Linked DNA regions of Homo sapiens. The protein of the gene in region 2 interacts with the protein of the main gene of each other region in a pairwise test. Each region holds a gene or a part of one and is shown on either strand. Other genes may lie near its edges.

What was found.
Region 1: the proteins of JPH3 (region 2) and DCAF8 interact in binary tests that used the Homo sapiens proteins (3 or more experiments, as listed by UniProt).
Region 3: the proteins of JPH3 (region 2) and C20orf141 interact in binary tests that used the Homo sapiens proteins (3 or more experiments, as listed by UniProt).
Region 4: the proteins of JPH3 (region 2) and IQUB interact in binary tests that used the Homo sapiens proteins (3 or more experiments, as listed by UniProt).

Annotation. Positions count from the first base shown.
Region 1 is NC_000001.11:160,224,532-160,231,556, forward strand, and holds part of DCAF8 (DDB1- and CUL4-associated factor 8), read right to left. Parts: intron 6,877-7,025; coding exon 6,766-6,876; intron 1,133-6,765; coding exon 1,060-1,132; intron 589-1,059; coding exon 531-588; intron 19-530; coding exon 1-18. UniProt on the Homo sapiens protein: May function as a substrate receptor for CUL4-DDB1 E3 ubiquitin-protein ligase complex.
Region 2 is NC_000016.10:87,598,102-87,605,508, reverse strand, and holds the start of JPH3 (junctophilin-3), read right to left. Parts: upstream 3,002-7,407; 5' UTR 2,363-3,001; coding exon 1,981-2,362; intron 1,421-1,980; coding exon of another isoform or gene 1,350-1,420; exon of another isoform or gene 1,270-1,349; coding exon of another isoform or gene 1,091-1,269; exon of another isoform or gene 881-1,090; intron 1-880. UniProt on the Homo sapiens protein: Junctophilins contribute to the formation of junctional membrane complexes (JMCs) which link the plasma membrane with the endoplasmic or sarcoplasmic reticulum in excitable cells.
Region 3 is NC_000020.11:2,810,227-2,816,332, reverse strand, and holds C20orf141 (uncharacterized protein C20orf141), read right to left. Parts: upstream 1,347-6,106; 5' UTR 1,316-1,346; exon of another isoform or gene 1,182-1,315; 5' UTR 1,149-1,181; coding exon 889-1,148; intron 796-888; coding exon 558-795; 3' UTR 503-557; downstream 1-502.
Region 4 is NC_000007.14:123,531,595-123,539,219, forward strand, and holds the start of IQUB (IQ motif and ubiquitin-like domain-containing protein), read right to left. Parts: upstream 3,002-7,625; 5' UTR 2,898-3,001; intron 1,600-2,897; exon of another isoform or gene 770-1,599; intron 1-769. UniProt on the Homo sapiens protein: Adapter protein that anchors the radial spoke 1 (RS1) complex to the A microtubule of outer doublet microtubules in axonemes. The triple radial spokes (RS1, RS2 and RS3) are required to modulate beating of the sperm flagellum.

The DNA.
Region 1 (7,025 bases), on a different chromosome or scaffold from region 2:
TGTAACTGGCCAGGAGCTCTGCCAAGAACAAGAACATAGCAGTGAAGGCAAAGGCTGAAAAAAGCAGGGACCAGGAGGTGGGGGTTGGGGTGGGGCTTCTTGCCAGTAGTGCCCCCTCCAAATACCCAGGTGTAGCACCCATCTTATTTGGAACACCAGGCAAGTCCGACTGTACAGGGTAGACTAAGAACACACTGCCAACCCAGGGGCAGCAGAATGCTCAAAAAGGTCATACCCATTAACTCAGGAATGAGTCAAAGGCATAAGAACCTGCTCAGGCAAGCAACCTGGGCTTCAGGACAGGCCCTGCCAAATATCATCTGCAGCATTCTGCAAATGGTACCTGGCATCTCCAAGGGTCATCTACTGTATCCTCCCGCTATGTGCTCACCATCAGCAGTTACTCCCCAGCTGCTCTACTTGGAGCTATAGCACAGTGGTGAGCACTGGAGGGCACATGCCTCACTGGCTCAGCAGCTCCCTAGACAGAGGGGGCATGCCAGCCTAGGAGCTGGGCCCTGCTCACGTACCTGTGCCGTCGTGGCTGTACACAAGACAGGTGATGTTTGCTTTGGACTCACTGTTCACCTGCAATAAGGAGCAGATACTGACTGATGCCCCACCCCCCCATTTGTTATACCATCTTCAGGAAACAGCTTTTCCTTCAAACTCCCCTATATCTTCTCCCAGAGATTTGAGAAAGACAGACAGAGACAAGAGTACAACTGATGAAACATGACCACCTCAGGGGGTAGCATCTTGGGGCTTTCTTTTGGTTGTCATCCATGTGCTAGCCATTTTATGTACACTGTCTCATTAGGCCTCACCATCAAGGTGCAAGGCAGTTATTTTTATTTCTATTTTGTCGATTAAAAAACTGAGGCTATCAGAAGTGAAGTGACTGCCAAGATCACAAAGCTGGTAAGTGGTAAAGCCAGGATTCAAATCCAGATGACTGACTTGAAAGTCCAAGCTCTTCCCACCATACCAACAAGTTCAGGTGCAGCCTTGGGGTTGAGTCAGGGAAGCCTGCAGCAACTGGCCCTTCATGAATCTTACCAGGTGATGAGGACAGAACTTCTTGAGTACTCCATTGTTCTCATTCTCATCAATTTTCCTCTGGTCATAAATCCTACAGTTGGAAAAGCAATGAAAATGTAAAAATGTACAAACGAAACCCTTGAAGAGCTGCAATTTGATGTAGTGGCAGGAAACTGCCAGCTGGATGCAGATAAACAACATTTTCCAAACCAAGCTTTTGGTTTGTGCTCTTCCTTAAAGGGCATCCCTTTTCCAATCCATTTCCAAACCCTAAATCTTTTGTTTGTTTGAGATGGGGTCCTGCTCTGTCACCCAGGCTGTAGTGCAGTGGCATGACCCCGGCTCACTGCAACCTCCGCCTCATGGGTTCAAGCAATTCTCTTGCCTCAGCCTCCTAAATAGCTGGGACTATGGGCACACACCACCACGCCCGGCCAATTTTTGTATTTTTAGTAGAGACAGAGTTTCATCTGTTGGCCAGGCAAACCCTTAAATCCTTTATCCACATACTTCCCATTTTAAGTGGCAATCCTCAATTCTGTCAGTTTGAAGTGGTTTATCTCTCTCCTCAAGTTTTATATCACATACTGCTACTTTTCACTGAAACAACTAACATTAGTATGGAGCTTTTTACATGTACATTACCTACCGAAAAAGGTTACTCACGGGCAGAAACCATGCTTAATGTAAGTCAATGGGTCTGTAATCCCTCCTTAAAACTGTATTTGGCCTGTTCTCCCTCTCATACCCCACAATAATTATTAAAAACTACCACCCATATCCTCAAGACTCCCTCTCCTTTCCTCATTCTTATCAAGCACACTACACCTTCACCTTCCTTCCTCTCTCTAATCCAAGCTTTAAACTCATGAGGACACACATATTATGTGTCAAATATTATGCTAGGTGCTAGAAATACAGTGAGGAACAAGACAGATCCAGTATCTGTTCTCACCCAGTCTCCTCCAATCTCAGAGCCAATCTCTTGAAAAATGCTTTTCATTTCATCCTTCCAGGGACCTTGTTTGATGATTATCTAATTTCTCAACCTCTTCCTCATCACCAGCTGGCCACTTTCTAAAAATCCTTCTGCTGACTGTCCTTTCCTACTATTGCTTTTTTTCTCCTTCCCCTTACAGTTACACTACTGAAAAGAACAATCAACATTCAATATTTCCACTTTCTTACTTCCTATTCACTTCTCAGTCCATCCTAATCTGGTTTTGGTTCTCAACTCACCACTGAGACTTCTCTGGCTGAAGTCATCAGTTAATTATATCCATTTGTTAAGTAGGTGTAAGTCTAGAGTTCAGAATAAGTGTGGTCTGCAGACACAGATGTAAGTCATATATCCGTGTGAAAGGTGGTAGTTAAAGCATTGGTAATGGAATTAGATCTCCAAGGGAAAATACAGAGAAGATTTTCCCTTCGCCCTTTAGAATCTCTGGCCTGTTTCAGAATATAATGAAAACTCTAGTCCCTTCTCCCCAGAAAAATGCACATAAGCATACTTTCTGGAGGTTCACATAATATTTGTACTTCAAGTTAAAATTCCCTGGTATAGAGTAAGATGAGAGCTGAAGACTGAGCTACTGGAGAACATCAGCATTTAATGGGTGGAGAAAGGAAGACACACCCATGAACAACACTGAGGAGTGGTTGGACATCAAGGAGAGAAGGTGCTTCAGGGAAGGAGTAATAATGTCAAGAGTAGAGAAAAAGACTTGAAAAGTACTTTGTTTGCTTTGGCAGTTAGGTTACTGATGACTTAAGCCTTGACATCCCCAGCTCACACGATCCTCCCGCCTCAACCTGCCGCGTAGCTGGGACTACAGGCACACACCACCATGCTGAGCTAATATTTTTATTTTTTGGTGGAGACAGCATCTGCCCAGCTTGGTCTCAAACTCCTGGCCTCAAAAGATTCTCCTGCCTCAGCCTCCCAAAGTGCTGGGATTACAGGTATAAGCCACTACACCCCAACTAAGTGTTTATTAATAGCTTACTATATTCTACATATGATGCTAGAACGGAGTTTGGCAAACTTTTTCTTAAAGGACAAGACAGTAAATGTTTTAAGCTGGTAAACTGGCAAACCATCTAATCTCTATTAAAACTATTGAATTCTGCCATTGTAGCATGAAAGTGGTCATAAACAACATGTAAAGTAAGGCCATGGCTGTGTTCCAATAAAACTTTATTTATAAAAACAAGCACTACAGTTTGTCAAGCCCTGTGATAGACAGTAAGCATAGAAAGATTAATACAAACTTTCCTACCACTTTCTGAACATATGATAGGCCCTTGATAGTTTATATTTTACTTTTAGTTATTTTTTTTGAGACAGGGTCTCACTCTGTCATCCAGGATGGAGTGCAGTGGTGTAATCACAGCTCACTGTAGCCTCAAACTCCTGGGCTCAAGAGATCCTCCTCTGCCTCCCAAGTAGTTGGGACTACAGGAGCATACCACCACACCTGGAGATATTTAATTAATTAAAAAATTAAAATTTTTTCTTAATTTTTTTTTTTTTTGGTAGAGACACAGTCTTGCTATATTGCCCAAGTTGGCCTTGAACTTCTGACCTCAAGCTATCCTCCAGCTTTGGCCTTCCAAAGTGCTCTAGTTTTATAGTCATGAGCCACCACACCAAGCCCCTTGACATTTTAAGTCACGTAAGGAATAGTGTGCACACCTTTACCACATCTCTTCCCACATGCCTTCAGGCACCCACTAACTTGTTACCCTAAGTCTCTCTTCTATACCTGCCTTTAATCTAATGTTCTCTCAGTGTTGCTGATGTTGGCTTAAGAACTGGGGAATGAAGAGATGATTTACTGACTGTGCTTCATCAATCAGGGCCTATACTTAATCCTTTAGCAATAAATTTTCATGTCAGCCAAATTTACCACTAAAGGATTCACCTGATATATTCTCTTTTTCTTTACCCCTATAAATTCTTAAAACTAAGCTAAGCAGGAATTAGCTTAGCTTAGCAGGTGTAGTAGGGACTCACACCTATACCTCCTCTACTTACCTTTTTTTTTTTTTTGGCCACAGGCCAAAAAGCATGTCTCCCCAGAGCTTCCCTTAAATACTTTTTAATAACCCTAAACTAAAATTCAGTATTAATGATGCAAAAGCCTTGAGGATCAGTAAGCTATTTCTCTATATTCCCTTGAAGTAATTCCTTTAGGCTAGGAGTGAAAGTTAATGATGTTATGATATATAATATTCAGCAAAAATGTTTTCAAATTTATACCAGAAGATGAGCTGTTTGGGTTCTTTCAAAGGAAGAATAAGAAAGGAGAAACCTCAAAACATTCAGTTGGCTGCACAGGAGAGGTGCCAGAGAAGTTGAGTGTAACCTAATGTCAGAGAAGAGCTGGAGTGCTGAAAGGGCTACCTGCTTGTGTAGGATCAGCGTGCCTCAAAATCTTCACATAGCCAGGCGCGGTGGCTCACGACTGTAATCCCAGCACTTTGAGAGGCCGAGGTGGGTGGATCACTTGAAGACAGTTCGAGACCAGCCTGGCCAACATGGCAAAACCGTATCTCTACTAAAAATACAAAAATAGCCAGGCAAAGTGGCACATGCCTGTAATCCCAGCTACTTGGGAGGCTGAGGCATGAGAATCACTTGAACCCAGGAGGCAGAGGTTGCAGTGAGCCGAGATCGAGCCACTACACTCCAGCCTGGGCAACAAAGTGAGACTCTGTCTCAAAAAAAAAACAAAAATCTTCACATAACTTCTGCCCAGTAAATAGCCAATAGAGGAATATTGAGGCTGATAAGACACAGAAGATTTGAGTATTTCTCCTTGTGTTGAAATGCTAAAACTCTAAGCCTTACTCTAACCCTGGGAAAGTATCAGCTTTGGGTTAAGGCAATATGATATACATATCATATGAATACATATGAATACATACATACATATGAATACAGTTCTCAATACAGCAAACTACTACATTCCCCTCCAAACATCTTGGTCCTAGTGGTGGAATTTGTTAGAGACACAGACTTTTCAAGTAATCTGGAGCTCTAAGTAGGAACTCTCAACTCAAAATTTCAGTGAATGCTCAACTTGGAGGAGGTAGCAACTGAAAATCTATACAAACTACAACCCTTTTTGATCAACAGCTTCTTATTTAAAAATAAAAAAAATTGGCCAGGCACAGTGGCTCATGCCTGCAATCCCAGCACTTTGGGAGGCCAAGGCGGGCAGATCACCTGAGGTCAGGAGTTCGAGACTAGCCTGGCTAACACGGTGAGACCTCGGTTCTACTGAAAATACAAAAAATTAGCCAGGCGTGGTGGCGTGCACCTGTAATCCCAGCTACTCGGGAGGCTGAGGCAGGAGAATCGCTTGAACCCGGGAAGCGGAGGTTGCAGTGAGCCAAGATTGTGTCACTGCACTCCAGCATGGGTAATAAGAGTAAAACTCTGTCTAAAAAAAAAAATCTATGGCTACACATTTAAGGACTGTTGGTGACTAGAGGAAACGAATTTTGAAGGCATGGGAATAGGGGAAGAAGAGAGAAACAAGGTTTTGTCCAGGATTCTTGAACAAGGCAAAGTCATCTCATGTATTTTCTAAAAATTTACCCTATTCCCCATGATTCTTATTAATAAAATGAATCTGGAAATATAGCTATAAAATGTGCTCTCATTTCAAAAGGAAGATGATGCTTTTCACTTACCATTAGGAAAGCAAAAAGTCACTCATTTTTCTAGTGATCTTGCCCCTCTCTCTCCTTTCAAACTGATGAGCCCAAAGAAACATAGTTAAAATAGGCCAACTGGATAGGGATGGATACAGCTTATTACTAAGGGTCAGAGGAAATTAACTAATACATATGGAGACTGAATCCACAGTGTCTGTTTTCCTTAGGTCATGTCTCAAGAGCCAGTGTTAACAAAAGGTGTTCACGGTAACAAAGATATCACTATGGATAAAAAAAAGTGGTAGCTCAGGACAGTGAGAGCCAAAAAACCCTCAGTTCACACTAAGTGCTCCCAAGTCAAACTATTTCTGAATTGAAAACCAGTATTTAAAATTTCTAGTGCACGTTTATTTACATACGAAAAAGGTAGATTATTTACTAATATAGTACTTGCTGGTAAACCTAAATTTATGGCTTAGCTGCCACGTGAGGACCTTGGTCAATTCATCTAACTTCTTTTCTTTTCTTTTTTGAGACAGAGTCTCGCTCTGTCATTCAGGCTGGAGTGCAGTGGCACAATCTTGGCTCATTGCAACCTCTGACTCCTGAGCTCAAGTGATCCTCCTGCCTCAGCCTCTTGAGCAGCTGGGACTACACGCATGTACCACCATGCCTGGCTAATTTTTGTATTTTTTTTTTTAGAGACAGAGTTTTGCCATGTTGGCCAGGCTGGTCCCAAACTCCTGTCCTTAGGTGATCCACCCGCCTCACCTCCCAAAGTGTCGAGATTACAGGTGTGAGCCACTACACCTGACCATCATCTAACTTCTTTAAAACTTGATAATCTCTAAAATATGTAAAGTCACCCCTCAGAGACTGTTACATTAGAGAACAGAACATCTCCAAAGGCGTGTAAGATTTTTGGAAAACGGTAAAAAATTCAAGATAATAGTTAATGGATTCCTATAAAATTCGTAACTCTCCATAAAGGAGCACCTGGTAGTATACAATGCATCAGTCTTACAAACTGTCAAAGACACAAAAGAGCCACAAACTCACCTTACAAACTGATCTCGTCCACCCACTGCAAACTGGTGGGTATTGGCAGGATTCACATAGATCGTATACAGCCCCACTTTCTTCTCTTTCTCTTTTGTCACCACCAGTTTCCTTTAAGAGTAGAAAAGCACAGAAAGTTATATACTCCAAAAGATCCAAATGGTCATGGCAAAGGAGAGCCAAGAGAGTCACATGGCTAATAAGAAACCAAAGAGATTCTCATTTGGAAAGAAAGAATTGTTGTGTTTTCTCTGTTTGTT
Region 2 (7,407 bases):
TCGCCGCTCCTTCTCCCTCAAATGTAAGCTCCGTGAGGGCAAAGATCTGTGTCTGCTTTGCTCAGTGTGGTTTTTCCAAAGCCTAGGACACCTGGCTGTCTGCTTTGCTCAGTGTGGTTTTCCCAGAGCCTGGCACACCTGGCTCATAGCAAACATTCCATCAGTATTTGTTGAATGAAAGAAATGATTCCTCAGGACTCTGGAGATGTCTGAGGAGCGTGGGCAGAGTGGGGTGCTCAGCCTCACCCCCAGATATTCTGAGGAGTTTCAGAGACAACGAAAGCCCTGGCTCCTCTCGTCCCCATGCCCTGCGTGAGCCCGGCCTGCACAGTCCTCCTGGAGCAGGCTCAGCCAGGAGCACCTCTGGAGGACAGGTCTGCAGAGCCTCCTGGCCAGAGCCTGGGGGTGATAGCAGCCCCTGGGCTCCAAACAGCCCAGCTGGAAGCGCCAGGCTGCCTGCCTGTCTCAGCCACCCACATCTGCTGCCCGGGCCTCCCTGTGCCTGCACGCGCGCGCACACACACACACAGGCCCACAGCCTGGAACCAAGGGAGCACCGTCTGCTCCCGCCCGGCCCTCAGCGCCCCAGGGTCAGGGAAGCTCTCCAACCTGCTCCATGAAAACAACAACGGCACAGAAAAGGCCGCCTGAGACCGGGGCTGGGCACGGCTTTGACAGGCAGGAGCATTATATAATTAACTGCCCCAGACTCCTCCTCCTCTTCGGGTAATAACGAACCCTGCTTTTCAGTTGCATAAGCCAAAATAATAATTACTCTCCAGCCCCCTGCCACTCCTGGATGTGGCCGTGGAGCAGGTGTTCCGAGCTTTCTTCATGAGACTCGGAGGCAGCGAGCGGGCGGGGAGGACTAGAGCACACGTACGCTCAGGATTTTTATTCTCGGCAGAAGCACAAGTCATTGCTGCGTCTCACTCCCTTCCCAGGCATCCATGCCTGAAACAGGCGAGCCGCCCGAGGGAGGCAGAGGACCCAGTGCCTCTGAGGATAAGCTCCCACATGGGAGTGGACTGGTCGGGGAAGCCAGTTTGTTTGGGGTCTGGCTTCCAGGAAAGGACCGGCTCCATGCGTGTCAGGTGCACTGAGGAGTGGATATCGGAGAGTCCAGGCAGGCGGGCAGCTGCAGAGCCGGCCAAGGTTCCCTGCACAGAAACCATCTTACAGCAGCAGCAGCAGCAGCAGCAGCAGCAGCAGCAGCAGCAGGCAGCTCCCTGGCTTCCGGCCCCGGCTCTGCCCCGAATGCGGTGGCATCTTAGAATGAAGGCACAGATCGATTCCCTCAACTAATGGTGAAAACGATGCAGCCACTGAAAGACGAGATTCCTGGGCTCTCACTGAGCAGATGGGCCTCCCTCCTCCCTCCAGCAGCCTGCTTCGACAGCGCTAGTCCGCGTCCAACCACCTAGAAGTGTACTGCCTGGCTGTTTTGGTTCGGGTTGGCATCCCCCGCCCCTAGCGCTCCCCATCACTCCCTTTCTCTCGGCTTGGGCAGATTCGGGGCTGAGGAAGGCCCTCGGGCGCCGCAGGAACACCAGAAGCGAAGCTGGGGCCTGATCGAAGGGCGGCCTCCAGGGTGGGGGGCAAAGCCAACAAGGGGAGGGGCCCTTCTCCCAGCCCCCTCTGCCCTTGCTGGGTTCCCCAGGGCCGCGGGCCCAGCCTGGCCCTTCCCGCAGGTCTCCGGCCTGCTGTGTCCGACGCACGGAGGCTCTGCTGGGCCCCGCCTGGCTCTGCCCCTGGAAAGCCCCCAACACCCTTCAGCTGGCACAGGGGCACTGTCCCCACCAGGCAGCGGGGCAACCTGTAGCCAGGAGCCGCCGTGGCTTCCAGGGAAGCCCGGGAAAGGCCCCTGGTGCCCACGGCCCAACCGGAGGACGCAGCTCAACTTCCCCAGAGATCCACAGAAGGGGCGCGATCGGAAGCACGTCCCTCCCGCCCCGGCCCGGCCCGGCCCGCGGCACCTACCTCCGTCCGAGTAGGTCTCGGTCCCGTAGCCGTCCTGCAGCCCGTTGCTCCAGGTCCCTTCGTATTTGGCCCCGTTGCCCGCGCACTCCCGCACCCCGTAGCGCCCCTTGAATCCGTGCGTCCACTCGCCCTTGTACACCCACTTCCCCTTGCTCTCCAGGCCGATGCCGTGGCGCTTGCCCTGCGCCCAGGTGCCCTGGTACGTGTTGCCGCTGGGCCAGGTGTAGACGCCCAGCACCTCGAAGCCGTGGCTCCACGAGCCGGTGTATTCGCCTTGGCCCTTGGGGCCGGTGCAGACGCCATGGCCGTGCGCCTTGCCGTCCTCCCAGCCTCCACAGTAGGACCCTCCGTCGTCAAAATTAAACCTGCCCCCACTGGACATGCATGTAACTCGGTTCCAGATCCCGCAAACGGTGAAAACGGACTCAGGCGATCGACACAGCAGAGTCGCGGCCGCCGGCGGCCCTGGGTCGCGAGCGTTTTCCGGAGGAGAGGAGGACGCGGCCCCGGAGCGCGGTCTCGGGCGCGGGCGGCCGCGGCGCCGGCTCCGGAGGAATTTCAGTCAATCGGGGGCGATTATTCCTTTTCGAGCTGCGCCGCGGAGCCTGACCAGCGTCTCGCGCTCCCGCTGGAGACAGGACCGGAGGGGAGGGGGAGGGGAGGAGGGAGGGAGGGGGCAGGAGCGGCGGCGGCGGGGCCCGCGGCTCCACCTCAGCGGCGAGAGGGCCCCTCGCCGGCAGCCCCGCGGGGAGGGCGCCGCGCCGAGGCCGGGCGGGGGGCAGCTCAGGCCCGGGCCGCGGCCCCCCACCTGCGGCTGCCGCGCTGCGGGCGCCCGAGGGCGGCGGCGGGGCCCGCGGGCGGCGGCGGCGGCACGGGCGGCGGCGCTGGCGGCTGCACCATATTGGGGGCCGCGGGCCGGGCGCGGGGCGGCGGCGGCAGCAGCAGCAGCAATGCGGCGGCTCGGGCGGCGGCGGCGGCGGTGGCGGCGGCGGCGTGCGCTCCGGGCCCGGCTCGCGCGCTCGGGCCGCGCGGCGCGCGCCCGCACCCCGCCCGCCCGCGCGCCCCCGCCCGCCCCCCGCCCCCCGCCCCCCGCCCCCGCCCCCGCCCCCGCCCCCGGAGCGCGGCGGTCCCAAGAGGGGCGCGGCCCAGCAGGCTAGGGCGCGGCGCGCGGGCGGGGACCCCGGGCGCCCCGCCCTCCGCGCCCCCAGCCCCGCGCTCCCCGCCCTGGGCTTCCCCGGGGCCCCCGCCGGACTGGAAACCGGGGTCCAGCCGGGGCGCCCCCGCCCCCTCCGGGAGTGGGATTTAAAGGCACAGGAACTGCGTCATGGGAAGGCGCGCAGCACTCAGGGCGCCCTCGGCCCCCTCCCGGGAGCTGGGCGGTGAGGCCTGCAGAGCAGGACCTGCCAGCTGAGCGCCCCTACCCTCGCCCCTGCCCGCCCCCGCGCCTCGCCCCTCCCGCCGGGCTCGGATCTGCCCCGCCTGCCCCTGACTCGACTGAGGCCCTTTGCAAACCACAGGTGGTTTTCTCCGGTGACAAACAATGCTTCCTTCTTCCTTCCGGGCAGCTTGGGTCCAAGAGTGGGGGGAGGGGGGCTTACCCCAGAAAACAGGGATTTGGCGAGTCCCTCTCCCCTATAAATTGAGTGAGAGTCGGGACACACGCGTGTATCTTGGAGCAAAGTCACCCGAATTCCGTGCGCCCTGCGCCCTGGCCAACAGGTAGCGCCCCCCCACTCGGGGAACGGTCGCGCTTTTGGGGAGCAAAGTGGGACCGCCATTCGGGCGTTTCTAGGTCTCTCTCCAGACATACTCTCACCCTCCGCCCCTCTTCCCACGCACAAGAGAGAGTCTGATTCTTGGATCCGAGCATCCTGGGATCCATTTAAAATGCATTTCCTGGACCATAAATCCTCAGGCAGAAGCCGGCGTCCCCAGCCCTCCTGAAATGCGTGCGGGAAATGGCAGCAGACCGGTGCAGTGGGCTGATGGGGGTGTGGAGGCTGCCCAGGGTCCTCGCTCCTGGGAGTGTGGGCCGGTGACCGCAGCGCGGTGAGCCAGAAACTGCAAGCCAGGCCTGGAGCCTGAGATTAGGACAGGAGAAGAGGTGCGATTCGGAGCCTCCAATCAGCCAGGAGCCCTGCTCAGATCTTCCCCTGTCCGAGAGAATCAGGATGGTCCCCACTCTTGGCTCACGGGGCTCTCAGAAAAATCAGCCCCTCCTGGGAGTCCCAGAGTTCAACCTCAGTCTCTTGCCTTGGGCACCAAAGCTCCCTCCCCAGAGTACCAGCAGCCAGGAGGACAGTCACCTCCTCATACACCCACTGTCAATGAGGAACATTTAGGGCGGTCGGCTTTGTTTTGTTTTGTGCAGTTACAGTGATTCATTGAGCTTTCTAGCGCTGTCTCCCTGTGCCCCTCTACAGAAGTTCTCTAAATGTCTGCGGTGGCATCATTGGACCAGCTACGTCTTGGACTTTATTGGAAGCTGCCAAATTGCTTTCCAAACACCTGGAGCAACTGACCTCTCACCCTTCAGTGTGCCTGGGTTTGTGGTTCTCTATTTCCTGGCCAGCACTGGTGTCCTCAAACTTCTGATTTTCTTTCCATTTATTTTACTTTGTTCATCTAAATGGGTATGAAATAATATCTCTGGGCTGTTTCATGTCCATGGAAATTTCTCTGTTGTAAATGTGTGGGCCAAAGGAACTGCACCTTGTCCTCAAGAGATTCGGGTCGAAACCTTGGCTCCGGGGCCCACCAGCAGTATGGCTTTGGGCAGTCACCTAATGTCCCTGAGCTCAGTTTTCTCATCTGTAAAATGGAGATGGCAGAGTTCCCATAGGGTTACCGTGGGAATTCAAAAGCTAGGCGCCCAGCACTCAGTAAGCGCTCGGGAAGTGGGAAGTAATGTTATTGGAAGCCAGCCCCCCAGGGAGGGTCATGGATTCCTGCATGGAGACACCCAGCCCTCTGCCTGTTGAAATAAACATTGCCACCACTCGTATGTTCTACTTTTCATTTCTTCCATTTTATTTCCAACCATTTTGCTGCTGAATCAGCAGCCCTCCTTCACACAAGCAGTGGATTGCAACTGAGATCCTATTGAAACACGGTGGTTGCTTCCAAGCAGTTACTGGTCAGCACCTTCCACCTTTGGCCAGTGTACACTCCGCTCCCTTGCAGTTCCAAGACCCCCACCTCCAACTGACCCTCTCTCATCTCCTGCAGTCAGTTACTCCAGCGGTGACAGGCTCTAGTCTCTGAAATGCAGATATTACAGGCATTTGTTCTGTGCAATTTGGAAATCACCGCCCTCCCGATAAAGTAGGGCTGGCAGTATTGATTTCACTTTGGAGGAAACTCTCCAAGCCTATAAACGTAGTACCACCCAGCCGTTTAAAAACAAAAACCAGGGAGAAGGGTAAAAAAGCTGTAACCCACATGTGAGCCAGGCACTAGGATGAAGACAGCACATTAGTCATCTCATGGACTCAGGTGATTTGGAATTACACTCTCCTTTTTAAAAGAATCACTTTTCCCCACCAACGTAAAGTGCCTTGCCAGAGGGAAAATAATGACTGGGCAGGATTCGAGCCCAAGTCTGCCTGGCCTTCCAGCCTGCACCCTTTCTGGCCTCCAGGCATGGGTCCTTGCTGTCTCTTTTGCCTGGTGCCTCTTCCCATGACAGTAGAGCTTTCTGGTCTCAGCTCCAGAGAGGCTTCCTGACTAGTGCAGAAAGAAAGCTCCCCCTGCATCCCCACAAAAGCCTATTAATCTCCTTCAAAGAACTGAGCCACGATCAACTTATCTGTGCTTGCCTTCTTGTCTTTGCCTGTGTTTACCATAACACTGTGAAATGTCCACAAGATCCCCCATTCCACGTGATCTTCTTCCAGTGTGGTGTTGACACCCCTCCTGTTGAGGGAGTGCTTTGGGGGAGCAAAGTGGGACTGCCATTTGGGCGTTTCTAGGTCTCTGTTGAGAGGTGGGCTCTGCATTCCCTTCCCCTGAATCTGGGCCAGTGTGTGATTATCACAGAAGTGACAGGATGTGACTTCAAAGGTCAGTTCATAAACAGCAACACAGCTTCTGCCTCATGCTCTTGGGGTGCTCAAGCTTGGAACCAAGTTGCCATGATGTAAGGAAGCTCAAGCAGCCCCTGGACGTGCCAACAAGGAGAGATACAGGGTCCTCCAACCCACAGCTCCAGCCAGACTCCCAGCCAGCAGCCAGCAGCATTTGACAGCCATAAAAGTGTACCATCTTGAAAGTAGACCCTCCAGACCCCAGGCAGGTCACCCCAGCTAAAGCCACATGCAGCTGAGACAAGCGTTCCCCATCACATCTTGTCAGAATTTCAATTTTCTGAAAAAAAAAAAAAAAAAAAAGAAGATTGTTGTTTTAAGCCAGGCATCACACAAACCATAACCCAGAGGCCAAATCTAGTCCACTGCCTATTTTCATAAACAGAATTTCACTGAAGCACAACCATGGCCATTCATTTGTGTGTCTAGAGTGGCTTTTACACTGCAACATAAGAGTGGAGTCGTTGTGACAGACACCATATAGCCTACAAAGCCTAAAATATTTACCATCTTGTTCTTTACAGAAAACGTTTACCACTTTTTGCTCACGGGGCTCTCAGGAAAATCAGCCCCTCCTGGGAGTCCCAGAGTTCAACCTCAATCTCTTGGCTTGAGCACCAAAGCCGCCTCCCCAGAGTACCAGCAGCCAGGAGGACAGTCACCTCCTCATACACCCACTGTCAATGAGGGACATTTAGGGCGGTTGGCTTTGTTTTGTTTTCTGCAGTTACAGTGATGCAGTGAGCTTTCTAGCACTGTCTGCCTGTGTATTAGTCTTCAAGGGCCGTCATAACAAAATACCGCAGACTGGGTGACTTCAACAACAGAAATGTCTTATTGTTTTTGAGGCTAAAAGTCCAAGATCAAGTTTCTGGCTGATTCAGTCCCTGGTGAGAGTTCTCTGCCCAGCTTGCAGATGGCCACCTTCCCACTGTGCCACGACCCAAGCCTCTCTCTTTTACTGGGCCCTACATCTCTGCTCTCAGCCAGCCTGCCTTATGTTTCTGCCCTCCATAGACCAGCTTTCTCTGCTGCAATCTGCTCTTCCCATCCTAACAGTCACTAACCTGGACTCTGGAGATCCTGATTCCTGAGTCTTAGGAGAGACATTCAGCCTGGGTCAGGTGTCTCTTTCTGACTCGATTAGCTGTGGTCAAGTAGTGGGGTCCAGGGTCCTCCCTTGTGATGGCAGAAAGATATGATCAGCATTTCTAGTACAAGTAGAGGAAGCAAACTGAGCCAAAAATTGGGATATGGGGTCTGTCGATAAGACATGATTTAACATTGAGAATGGAAGAGCTTTGAAAAAATGTTGAGCATGATTTTACTTCCTTACTTACTA
Region 3 (6,106 bases), on a different chromosome or scaffold from region 2:
ACCCCCACCCTCCCCAGAGGAGCCCCTTTGTGACCCGGGCTGGGGTGGGGTCCAGCCAAGAGAGGAGTCACTGTAGGGTGTGAGGCCCACCCAAGTCCCTCTGCACGGACCCTCCAGGCTGGCAGGGGAGCCTCGGAGCCCCGCAGATGTAGTTTCTCATGCTTTCTCATGGGAAGCCCTCCCTGGATCCCTGTCCCTTTCCTGCTTTCCCTGCTGGCTGATATCCACCCCTTTCCAAACTGCTCTCTCGCAAGTCTTTCTGTCTGGACCTTCATTCTCTAGAGCCACAGAGGAGGCCAGAGTGGCTGCCCCCAATCCACAGGCTCTGAGGTGGCTGCCACATTCTTCCTTGGGCTCCCTGGCTAGTATCCTACCTTCTCTTGCTGCCCAAAGACTCAGATCCAGGTATCTGATACCTATATTATAGGACTGTGAGGTTCAGGCTGGGAAGAAAGGGGTATCATCCCACCTGCCCAGCCAGGAAGGAGAAAAGGGGGCCTGATGAAGAAGGGTGGTCATTGTATATTTGAAGGACACTGAGTTGTGGGGAGGGGCTCTCAGGCCCAAGGATGGAGGCAGAAAGCCAGGCCAAGCAGGGTCAAGGGCATGCCACAGGCTCTCAGGAGCGGGCCCAGCCCCATGAGCAGCAGCAGCAGTGCGTCCTGGAGGCTAAGTTGTCCTGAGACTGTACCCATTTGCAGGAGTAGAGCCTCCTGCTGTCCAGGACCTTCACCGGCCCCCTGACTCTGGCCCCTGGTGAGAAGTTTGCGCTGTGGCAGAGTGTGACCTGCGGGCCTGTGGAGAGAGAGGGTGGTGACTGGGCTTAGGGAAGTTGTCCACTGGCCCGCCCGCCTACAATGCCCACCTGCCAGGCTGCTGCCCACTTACCTATGGAGCAGGTCAAAGGTGAGGAAGCTGACCAGAAGCAGCAGCAGGGCTGGGCCAGTGGTGGAAAAGACTGCCTGGATTGTCAGTCCTAGTGCCCCCAGCCATAGGACACTGTCCAGGAGCTGGGCCCAGCTAGGGCCCCAGGTGGATACAGGTGGACGCACTGGACTACCTGACCCCTCCCCAGCACCCAGGCCCCTTGGAGGAACTGGGATCGGATCCTCACGTGCTTCGGGTCTGGGTAAGCAGAGCCGGGTCATGGAGAGAGGTGGAGGTGACGGGAAGACCTAGTGCTGAAAAGGATTATAAGGGTGAGAGTAGGGGAAGGGGTAGGGCCCGGGCAGACAGAAGGGTGAGCTCAGAGTGGGGAATTAGGCTCCTGCAGAGTCTCCCCCTCCCCCATACCCACCCAGCAAACCCTCCTCACCTCCTCCCACTTTGGTCAGCATTCTGGGAGTGGGCACCCGGGGCATTGTGACCTGTTACCACGTGGGGCCGTGGGGTAGGGAGGGGGCTGCTGCTGCTGCTGCTCTGACCTCATAAGCAGCTGGTGGCCTAGGTGGGGCTTAGCTGGGAAGTCAGGGATTTCTGAGAACTAAGACTCATCCTCTTGCCTTTGCTGATTCTCTGCCCTAGGGCCCTCCCTTGGGGATCTGAGTTGTCAGGAAGGCATTCTAACCCCATTACTACTTGGGCATCTGTCCAAGGGAGCGAGGTCTGCTTTCTTCTTCCTGTGAGTTTGCAGAGCTGCAGGTCCAGGGCGAAGTCATTCAATATCTCTGTCCCCAGCTGTCTTCCCTGTGGGTCCTTCTAGGGGATTTTTCAGGCCTGAAGTTCCAGATTGCAGAGATGGGCTCTGCCAGGGGACTGCCTGAGGCTTCTGGGGCTGGGCTTCCGCATAACCTGCTAAATGGGGGTGAGAGAGGAGGGGGCTGTTCAGGTATTCTAAGCACTACAGTTTATAGGGGGTGTTATGCATACTGGGGTTCCAGTAATGAGGTAGAGGACATGAACTTAAGAGGACTATGACCTAGTAACCCCCTTATTAGAGGTTAAGGTTACAGTCTGAGAATGGAGTTAAGGAAAATGAACATATAATGAAGGGCTTAGTCACTTGGATTATCAGTATATCAGATTACACTGATCATCTGTAAATGGGTGGTGGCCATAGGGGTCCAGCACATCTCAGTTTAGTGACTTGAGAGGCAAGAGCGGAAATGTGTCATAATTAAGAGAACTTAATCTTTGCCCACATATCATACTTTGAAGGAAAACTGGTAGGGGTGGCAAAATGGGAGACAGTGGCCATACAGCCCCTAGGAGAGGAGGAGACAGAACAAGAATCAGGCTGCATATCCACCTCCAGCAGGCCTTGCCCAGAGACGAGGGTCACCAGCCCTAATGACCATGCACTGATCGCCCTTGGTCTGGCTGTTCTTGCTTATCCAGCAGCTGGGTTTTACGAGTAGATTTGTCCGTAATGGGATAGGGTATAACAGAAGATCCCAGAATTTTTTTTTTTTTGGCATTAAGTTCCAATTGTGCTTGTAAAGGAACATTAAGGTTTAAGATTGGCAATTCCCTGAGCCTGATCAATCCTGGATGCATCCACACAATTGCATTCCTGGACATACAGACCTGGGGAGCATGTCCTGATGAGTCCACCAAGATGAGGCTACTCCATATTGCAGGGCATGGGGGGATCGGAGAGTCTAAAGCTCCTTAAAGATTTACTATGCACCAGGTGCTCTGTATGCATGTATAGGAGAGTTCTGTCTGTGATTTTCTCAGAGTTTATTTTGTATTCAACAATCATTTATTTAAGTGCTTCCTATGTGCCAGGCACTGCACCAGATGGTGGGTGTATTAGGCCATTCTTGCGTTGCTATGAAGAAATACCTGAGACTGGGTAATTTATAAGAAAAGAGGCTTAATTGGCTTGCAGTTTTGCAGGCTGTACAGGAAGTAGGGTACCAGCATCTGCTTTTGGGGAGACCTCAGGAAACTTCCAATCATGGCAGAAGGCAAAGGGTGAAGAGCAAGGGAGAGAGTGGTGGTTAGGGGAGTTGCCACACACTTAAACAACCAGATCTTGAGAGAACTCACTCACTATTTCAAGGACAGCACCAAGCCATGAAATATCCACCCCCATGACCCAAACACCTCCCATCAGGCCCTACCTCCAACATTGGGATTTGAGATTTCAACTTGAGATTTGGACAAATATTCAGACTATATCAATGGGTCATAATTTCTAAAAGTAGAGCCTGAGATGGGGATACTTGTACACATGGTTTATTGAGGGAGTGCTCTGAGGAGGAAAACCTTTCTTTCTATTTTTTTTTTTTTTTTTTTTTGAGACAGAGTTTCGCTCTTGTTGCCCAGGCTGGAGTGCAATGGCGCCATCTTGGCTCACTGCAACCTCCGCCTCCCGGGTTTAAGTGATTCTCCTGCTTCAGCCTCCCAAGTAACTGAGATTACAGGCACCCACCACCACACCCAGCTAATTTTTGTATTTTTAGTAGAGACAGGGTTTCACCATGTCGGCCAGGCTGGTCTCAAACTCCTGACCTCAGGTGATGTGACCGCCTCAGCCTCCCAAAGTGCTGGGATTACAGGTGTGAGCCACCCTGCCCGACCAGAAGGGAAAGATTTTTAAAAATCAAGAGACTCTTCAGAATTGAAGGACATGATTCTCTAGACCATAACTTTCCACCAATTCACAGCCCAATACATGAAACAGGGCAGCTAACATCAAGGCATATAATGAAATTCACATTAGCAGGGATAAAAAGACAATCCTAAGAGCTTCCACCAAATAAAAACATCACATACATCGGATCTGAAGCAAGAATGGTATCACACTTCTAAACACCAATACTGGTAGCTAGAAGACAATAAATGCCCTCAAAATGATGTCTAATATAGAAATGTATAGGTCTGAATGATTATTAATTGGGAGGGTAGAATAATGACATTTCAATCATACAAGGTCTCAGAAATTTGACCTTGCATATACCCTTTCTTAGAAAGCTACTGGAGGATGTGCTTCAGCAAAACAAAGAATTAAACTAAGAAAGAGAGCAATATGGCATTCAATAAATGAGATTAAGCACAGAAAAGGGACGATGAGAAAGGCCTGGGATGTCAACTATACCCCCGGGTAAAGAAAGTAACCAACCCAGCCTGAAATCAGAAGATGTGCTCTAGGAGCGATGTCTCCAGAGGAAAATGAAATCAACTGATTATTAGCTATGTTTGGCTATATTGAGTAAATGTTCAGTTACACTGGAAGCTTTGCGATTGAATTAATGAGTGATGCCTAGAAAACTAAGCAAATGATAAAAACAAAGTAATTACTAACTCCAGGTAGCACAAATTTAAACATAATATTTACATAGTCATAACAAAAGCACTGAATATTGATTCCAAATAGCAATTGAGCTTTACTGAAAATGGAAGGAGGGAGTGTATGTTTGTGTATCTGGATGTGTGTATTGAGGGGAGGGTGGTAGAAAAACTAACGCCTTAATTTCATAGCAGAAATCCACAGATAACAACTACATAAAGAAAAATCAAGAAATGCACAGTGACTCACACCTGTAATCCCAGAACTTTGGGAGGCTGAGGTGGGCAGATCACTTGAGGCCAGGAGTTCAAGACCAGCCTGGCCAACATGGTAAAACCCCATCTCTACTAAAAATACAAAAATTAACTGAGCATGGTGGCAGGCACCTGTAATCCCAGCTACTTGAGTGGCTGAGGCACGAGGATCACTTGAGCCTGGGAGGCAGAGGTTGCAGTGAGCCTCAGCTCACTGCACTCCAGCCTGGACAGCAGAGCAAGAAATTGTCTTTTAAAAAAAAGAAGAAGAAGGAGAAAAGAAAAGAAAAAAGAAAAAAAAGGAAATAGCAAGAAATCTAAGCATAGAGATAAAGACAGGAGAAATAACAAAAAGAACTAAAAGTGCTTGGCTTGGGAAAGGCATAGAGCCGACTCTTCCATTACAAGCCTAAATGTGATTTACCTTTAAAACTATATTGTAGACTGGACCTCTATGGAAAACTGTATGAAGATTTATCAGATAACTAAACAGAGATCTACATTCAATTCAGCAACCTCACTACTGGATATCTACCCAAAGGAAAATAAGTTATTATATCAAAAAGACACCTGCATACATAGTTTATTGCAGCACAGTTCACAATTGCAAAGATATGGAACCAATCTAAGTGCCCATCAACTGATGAGTGAATAGAGGGAATGTGCTATGTGTGTGCATGCACACACACACACACACACACACACACACACACACACACACCATGGAATACTACTCAGCCATAAAAAAGAGTGAAATAATGTCTTTTGGATGGAACTGGAGGTCATTATTCTAAGTGAAGTAACTAAGGAATGGAAAGCCAAATACCATATGTTCTCACTTATAAATGGAAGCTGGCGGGACACGGTGGCTCACTCCTGTAATCCCAACACTTTGGGAGGCTGAGGCGGGTGGATCACGAGGTCAGGAGATCGAGACCATCCTGACTAACACGGTGAAACCCGTCTCTACTAAAAACACAAAAAATTAGCTGGGCGTGGTGGCGGCACCTGTAGTCCCAGCTACTCGGGAGGCTGAGGCAGGAGAATGGCATGAACCCAGGAGTCGGAGCTTGCAGTGAGCCGAGTTCACGCCACTGCATTCCAGCCTGGGCAACAGAGCGAGACTCTGTCTCAAAAAAAATAAATTAAATAAAAATAAATAAATGGAAACTAAGCTGTGGGTATGCAAAGGCATACAGAATGGTATAATGGACATTGGAGACTCAGAAGGAGGAGGGTAAGCGGGGGGTGACAGATAAAAAAAACTGCATGTTGCATACAATGTACACTACTCGGGTGATGGGCGCTCTAAGATTTCAAACTTCACCACTATACAGTTCTCCCCTGTAACCAAAAACCGCTGGTACCCCTAAAGCAATTGAAATAAAAATAGAAACTATGTTGTAGCCTGGATGACATAGCGAAAACTTGTCTCTTAAAAAAAAAAAAATGTGGCCGGGTGCAGTGGCTCACACCTGTAATCCCAGCACTTTGGGAGGCCCAAGGCGGGCAGATCACAAGGTCAGGAGATTGAGACCGTCCTGGCTAACAAGGTGAAACTCCATCTCTACTAAAAATACAAAAAATTAGCCGGGTGTGGTGGCACACGCCTGTA
Region 4 (7,625 bases), on a different chromosome or scaffold from region 2:
CTGATCATAATTTTCAAATCAAATTAAGATCAAACTCCACTGACCGTCAGGTACTGTATATTCTCATTTTGATAAATTTCAAATTAATGATAAAAATGTATTAACCTGCTGGTCAATTATACATTTTATAAATATATTTTAACCAATGACATATTATCAGTAAGTACAGATTCAACGGCAAGATTTCATTAAGAAAGTGTTTCAAGCTTCAGATGCCCAAGACTTATTTAATGTGTAAATCTTCACCACTACAATAACCACATGGTTAAACGATCACCACTTCCATTAGCAAGCTCAAGCCTAATAAGTGATCTCCTGGGACTTCAGCACAGAGGTTTTCTAATTTTATTCCTCCACTCAATGTGGCTATTCTCCCTTATCTATTCACGCTGGCAAAGCTTCTAGTTAAACTGGAATTAGTAACTATTTGATGATAATAATTAACATATACTGAGTGCTTCCGATGGCGCAGTTAATTCTTACAGTTGATAAAAGTGTGGCACAAAAAGGTTAATCAAGTAGCAGAGGCAGGATTTGAACCCAGGAATTCTGGTTCCAGGGCCCGGATTCGGAGTTACAAAGGTGAGTAAACTGAAAAGAGTCCTACTTTTATTGTCATTGCTTTCTAATAAAAATTATTTTTTTCTTCCAATTGTTTAAATCTCTTCTCATTCTCTATTTAAATATTAGGCGTTCATTTAAATATTAGGCGTCTACCTTACAGTAGGACATCTTTAAACAACGTAAAAAAGGAAAGCTTTGTCTTCACCTTCACACATACCGGTCTGCCCATAAATTTTGCAATCCAGTTCTGCCTGATTCTAAACTGCTTGTCTCTTGAAGCGAATGCCTTAAAAAGTGACACTGGGATCAGGATAGTTATCTCCATCCATCCTCCCTCAGAAAAACAACTATATTCGAGTAATTCTTGGGACCACTGAGAACAATACACAGACCTTTGGGTAACTTCAAGACAAAAAAGGCAAAAAGTCGGGGAGAAGGTGTGGGAGGATGATTTTCCCCTTCTAAACGTAAGGTATAAAAGGGCTCAGAAAGCGGAAAAAGAACCCTAAAAAGCAAGGTGCGGGACGGCGTGAGGGACCACACATTGGGCGCTCCGCCCAAGGGGTCCGGCTCCTTCTCCGCGGCGATGGCGCGTCCTTGGGCTCAGCAACCCTCCTGAAGACACCTAACCTCCTCCTTCTCCAGCCTGCCCCTCTGGGGCCTGCGAGCCCCGTCCCGGGCCGGGGGTCGGAAGCCGTGCCATGTAGGACCCCGAAAAGGCCCCCAAGCTTGGCGCGGAAGGCGCCGCCAGTGACCGGCTGCGGCTGGGGGCGGAGGCCGGCAGTTGCTCGGAGCTCCGGCGGGTCAGGAGGTGACGGGAGGAGGAGGAGGCAGGAGGAAGAAAGGGGGGTTGGGAGGTAGCGTCCGGTAGGTCTGCGCAGACAGCGCTGCCAGACCTCTGACTCCCCCAGTCCTGCCGCCGCCGATAGCCCCACAAGGCGACATGGGAAGTCCGCCGGAGCAGAGGGGAGAAAATTCAAAACGAGTCTACTCAACCTCGTCTTGGCTCCGAGGCCCCGCCATGCAGACCCCTCTAGTTTTTTACTATTAAAAATAGTGCTGCAACAAACATTTTATACATCTATCTCTGTATATATGTGTAAGTATACTGAAAATGAGTTCCCAGAATTAGAATGGACAAGTCAAAGGGCATACAGATCTTAATTTTGTTAAATTCCATCAAACTGTTTTCTATTATAGCCCCAAGAAGTTCCCCTTGACTGTTTCCTTACATCCTCATATTGTTTTATGAGTCCTAATAATTAAATATCCCTTTGTTGTGTGTTGCCCTTATATTTCCCATTGTATGTTTGATGTTGTTTTTCTCTTACTATATAAAAGTTTTAGATTGTTAGGTAGTGACATTTATCAATCTTTTTGCTTATGAGAGTTTCCAAATTTCCTGACATGCTTCGAAACACCTTCTCACAATGAAACATAAATACATAAATTCATCCATAAATGCATAAATGAGACAGATCTGTAAATATTGATAGAAAACAACTGGACACACAGTCTTAAGTGTAAAAGCCAATCACAGAAGAGTATGCACAATGTTACAGGTGTAACTACATATTTGCGTATGTCTAAAACACCTGTGGAAGGTGGCCTGGAGATGGGGAGAAATGGGTAGATGGAGGATTTTCACTCTTCATTCTTTTTACTATTCGAACTATTTTTTTATGTATTATCTATTCAAATGAAAATGTTTAAATCTTATTGTTTAAAAAGCAACCTCTATCATGTTTGCATACAAAAAAGTCTCCCTTTTCACCTACATTTCATTCCCTACCATTTAAAGCTTAACACATTTAGAATGTAGTATAATTAGTGAGGCAGGGATCCAGTATTGCCTTCTACCAAATAGATCTGTTGAATTTTTAGGTTTGTTAAGAGGCAAAGACCAAGGGTGGAGAGGAAGGAGTGAGAGTGCCAGGTGAGGAAAGTCTAAAATCTCTCGACTTAATATGAGAATGGTGGCCACGGAAGGCTAAGAGTCTCTAGTGCCAGGTGTGGGTTATACACACATCTTCTATGCAATTACCGTGACAAGCACCCAGGGTGTGAGGTGAGGTGTACCTCCTAGCTTGATGCTGCTGGTTCAAGTCCCAAATCAGAGAGGGGAAGCCAAAAAAGGAGCCGAGAAAGATGAGATGCTTCGCACGGTTTTTAAAGTAAAGTCGGAACATTCCTGACCGACTAGGCAGCCCCAGGCGCTCAGGTGGGAATCACTGCCCAGCACACAGAACCCAGAGTCCAGCGCGGCTGTCACCGGCTCTAGGCTGGATCTAAGCGTCGGACCAGGAGGCCGCAGTCAAAATCTGTTCTCCTACCTGTGTACGAAACCAAACTATTCTCGTCGAAGTGCTTTCCCAGGCTCCTAAGACGCAGCTTCCATACTCGCCGCGTTCTCAGCTGTTGGTCGTATCCTAGCAACGGCCCTGGCACCACCTCTTCCTGCCGGAGCACGGCAGGGGTGGGAAGGAGAGGAGCCAGAGGCGGGTGGGGGGGAGGAGCCAGAAGAGGGCAGCGGGGAGGGGCCGGGAAGGAGGAGCGCGGCAGGGTAGGGGGAGGAGCCAAAGACTGGGGGCGGGGCCGGGAAGGAGGAGGGCGGCAGAAGAGAAGGGGATGAGCCAGAGGCGGGGAGGTGGGGCCGGGAAGGAGGAGTGCGGCAGGAGAGAAGAGGAGTAGCCAGAGGCGGAGGGGCGGTGTCGGGAAGGAGGAGCGCGGCAGGAAATAAGGGAAGGAGCTAGAGGCGGGCTGGGGGCCGGGGTCTGGAAGGAGGATCGCGGTAGGGAAGAAGAGGAGCCAGAGGAGGGGGATGGGGGCTGCAAAGGAGGAACGCGATAGGGAAAAGGGGGAGGAGCCAGAGGCGAGGGGGCGGGGAGAAGAAACATGGCAGGAGAAAGGGGAGGAGCCAGAGGCGAAGAGACAGGAAGAGGGACGCGTCAGGGAGAAGGGGAGGAGTCAGAGGCGAGCGGGCGTGGAGGAGGGAAGCGGCAGGGAGAAGGGGCGGGGCCAGAGGCGAAGGGGCGGGGAGGAGGGACGCGGCAGGGAGAAGGGGAGGAGCCAGAGGCGGAGGCTGTTACCAACTGGCTACCTAGATCCAAGTGAATCAGGACACTAACTTCTCTCCAAGATCTTTTACACTTGTGAAACGGCACAGCTCTCTAAACCAAACACTGACAGCAGTTTAATTTTACAGATATAAAAAAAATCCGAGTCAGAGAAATCATCACGATGAAGTCAGAGGCGAGAAACTGTCAGGTGCCTACTTGCTTTTGTTAAACTAACAACTTGGCTCTCAGCTTCCTGGCAGCCAAAGAGAAAAGGGAGATAGTAGCTATCAAATAATTCTGCTTAGAAGAACTTTTGTTAATCACTAAATTAGTTAATAAACTAAATTTTGTCTAACAACAAATTCTTTTTTTTTTTTTTTTTTCTAGTGTATACAGAGTCTTGCTCTGTCGCCCAGGTTGAAGTGCAGTGGTTCGATCTCGGCTCAATGCAACCTCTACCTCCCTGGCTCCCGCGATTCTCCTGCCTCAGCCTCCTGAGTAGCTGAGATTACAGGCGCCCGCCACCACCCCCGGCTAATTTTGGTATTTTTAGTAGAGATGGGGTTTCACCATGTTGGCCAGGCTGATCTGGAACTCCTAGCCTCAAGCAATCCGCCTTCAAAAGTGTTGGGGATTACAGGAGTGAGCCACCGCGCCCGGCCTATCAATGAATAAGAAAACTTTTAAAGAACCACAGGATAGTATTGGAGGTCAAGTCAAGTATGTTCCTCTTGGAAATTTAGTAACAAACTACATGTTGCTATCTCATAATAGCAGCTAACATTTATGAAGTATTCATTGTCATGAGGCACCGTACATAGATTTCTAATTTAATCCTTACAACGATTTTATTAGGGAGAAACTGCTATTAGACCCATTTTGTAAATGAGAAAACTAAGGCACACAAAGTTTAATGAGGGAACCAGGATTAAACCTAAGCAATCTAACTCCAGGTCCCAGATTTTTTAACCATTACAGTACTGTTTAATTTGATTTGATATGTTAAAAGGATTAATAAAATTAATACAGGTCCATTCCCTTATTCATAAATGTTCATTGTCTTCATTTATTTCTTTATACTGTTCTGCTGAAATTGCACTCTCATCTCCCCAATAACTTTGTAATATCCAATGCCATTTTTTTCAGTCATCCCATTTTAAAATATATTTTTACTAGAATAGTGAAATATATATTCAGATAAAATTGGCTTTGTTTTAATAATGATCAGTAAAAGTAAATTCATTTTAATCATTTCCACACATTCATGAAAAGTAAAGGGGAAAAATGGGCATAGAGGTAACCACTAGAATTAGGCTTTCTTGGATGGGTAGACCAGGTGTGGAGGTGTGCAGATAAGATTTTACAAACACTCATACACTCCCATCTCCAAAATCATAATTTATCTTACATTCTGCTACTAATAAACATTCCACTGGTTTTAAACATTCACTTTGCTGGGTCTCCTCTTTAAAATTTGTCATTCACTGTTCTCAATGTTAGAGACGGTATGCAAACAGTAGGTTTAGGAATAGAGTCAGGAGATGGGGGAAGAAAAACTGGTAGGAGAGAACTTAAGTGTCTCACAGTGTTAAATGTGACTTGATAGCCACTATTCATTTTTTTTTGTAGTTTGCTGTGAGGATGACTTTATACAATTTAATCTTAAATAGGAACCTAACTTAGTTAGGCTTCCTTGGGTAGTCTGTGGAGCATGGAAAAGTTATTAGCATGTCAAAATCCTGTCCACGCACACATACACGCACATACACACAAATGTAGTTTGGTTACATAATAAATTTATATTCAAACTTAATGAAAACAACCAATAGGAAAAAGCTTCTCAATTCCAAAAGTGAAAGAGTAATTTTACAATACCATTTTCCATTTTCCTTTTCATGATAAATCTATGCATTTTCTCAGGATTTATTCCACCAAACGACTTCGTATTTCTCATGAAACATCTACCTTTATTCATCTCAGCATTTATTTATGTAATAAACATTTCTTTTGATGTGCTTTTATTTTTACAAAGATGCCACCTAGTGGCTTGATAAAATCAAGCATTTCAAAGTATCTCCTGTTGTTACTACAGGTTAAAATGAATAATGAATATTTTTAATATTAAAATAATTTAGAAAACTAAGGACCTGAAAATTTTTGTTTTGGAAATTATTTAGATTAAATTTGGATCATAATACCACTTTGTGAACTTGTTAAGAGAATGGAAATATAGGTCTATTGTCCCTTTTCTGAAACCTTTTAAGACAGATGTGTTTGATATTCACAATTTTTCAGATTTTTGAAAGGAAATATGGGCATATACTTTACATTATGTAACACATTAAGAGGGTCTGAGGAAGCAGTTTAGAATCAAATATATTGATACATCTGTGGCAAAATATATTCATATTCACATTGAAGTGCGATAAATACCACAAATAGCCTCATGTAATTCAGGTGGGGTTTGTTGCCAAATGAGTTATGAAAAAACTTTGTTTTCAGAGATTTTTGAAATTAGGAATTTAGATAAGGGACTTTGGACCTGTTTTACTCTGGTGAAAAATAATTCACCCTCCAGTTATAGAGAGATTAAAATGCCAATATTTTGTAAAAAAAAAAAAATAGTTATCTTTAGAAAACCTAATAGATTCACCTAAAAAAAAATTGAAGATCATGAGAAATACCAAAATAGAAATCTTTGCAATGCTTTTCATTTAATTATATACAGATGCCAATCATAAATTACATTTAAGTGTACCACAAAAAATTAGCTGCTAATGTAAACCTAAAGACCAATTTGAAAATTATTAGTGATGCATGGCAAGTTCAATTCATAAATTTTGTGGCACAGTCAAAAAAAAATTTAACCTTGGTTGTTTCTTTTTTTTTATTCCTATGTGTAATTTACCATGTTCCAATTCCCCACCACCACTATGGTCATGGAAATATATGTTGATGGTGCCACACTCAGCCTGGATTCCTTGTGGGTCTATGAGCACTCCTTGCCAACCCTCCTTAGACATGCAGTATGAATAAAAAATACACTTAAGACACTGGGATTTAAGGATAACCCATGCTAAGTCACTACATGACTCACTATTTTACTTCACGATCTAGAATACTGACTCATCTCTAGTCTCTCAAATGAATTCTTCCTGTCCCCATCAATCATTCAAACCCCTTATCACATTCCCACTGTGATTTCCTGTGAATTTTGTCTAAAATAAAACGTCGACCTCCTCTAAACACAACTGGTAGCCTCTCATTTACTTTTCTCTAAAACAATTGGCATTACTATTGTTGTAGCATAGGCTACAATCTCACTGAACACTTAGTTTTTGTTTTTGTTTTTAGTAGAGACGGGGTTTCACCATATTGGCCAGGCTGGCCTCGAACTTTTGACCTCAAGTGATCCACCCACCTCGGCCTCCCAAAGTAGTGGGATTATAGGTGTGAGCCACCACGCCTCCCTACTGAACACTTAGTTTTAATGGGAAGACTGCACTCAGCAAATCCAAAATACTAGTGATATGTTCAGCAATTTGGTACTTAATCCCATACCCCACAATACACTTGTGTAGGGTGTTAGACTTCTGTATGTTTACATAATCATAGAGGATGGGAGGAAAAAGAAAAAGCTGCTATTAGCCTACATGTGGGAATTTTCCTATATATTGTCATCTCCCTTTTAAAAAAGATACATTCATAAACATTGTTATTGGCTTAATTAGCTTCGCTCCTCTGAATGTGATTAGAAAATTGACAATAAAATATAAGCTCTCTTTTCTTCCATCCCCCAATTCTGAGGGAAAAGGAGGGGGAGGGGAGAATGAGGGAGAGTGAAAGGATACAATAAAACTTGAGGCCTGATTGCACATGATGACTACTACTGCTGGCATCAATTCATTCTATTCCAATGACAGACTAGTTGATCCTACTGGTGTGGGAAAGATGGCAACCTTGAGACCTGAGCCTTACTCCAGTAGGGTGCCCCCCTATATC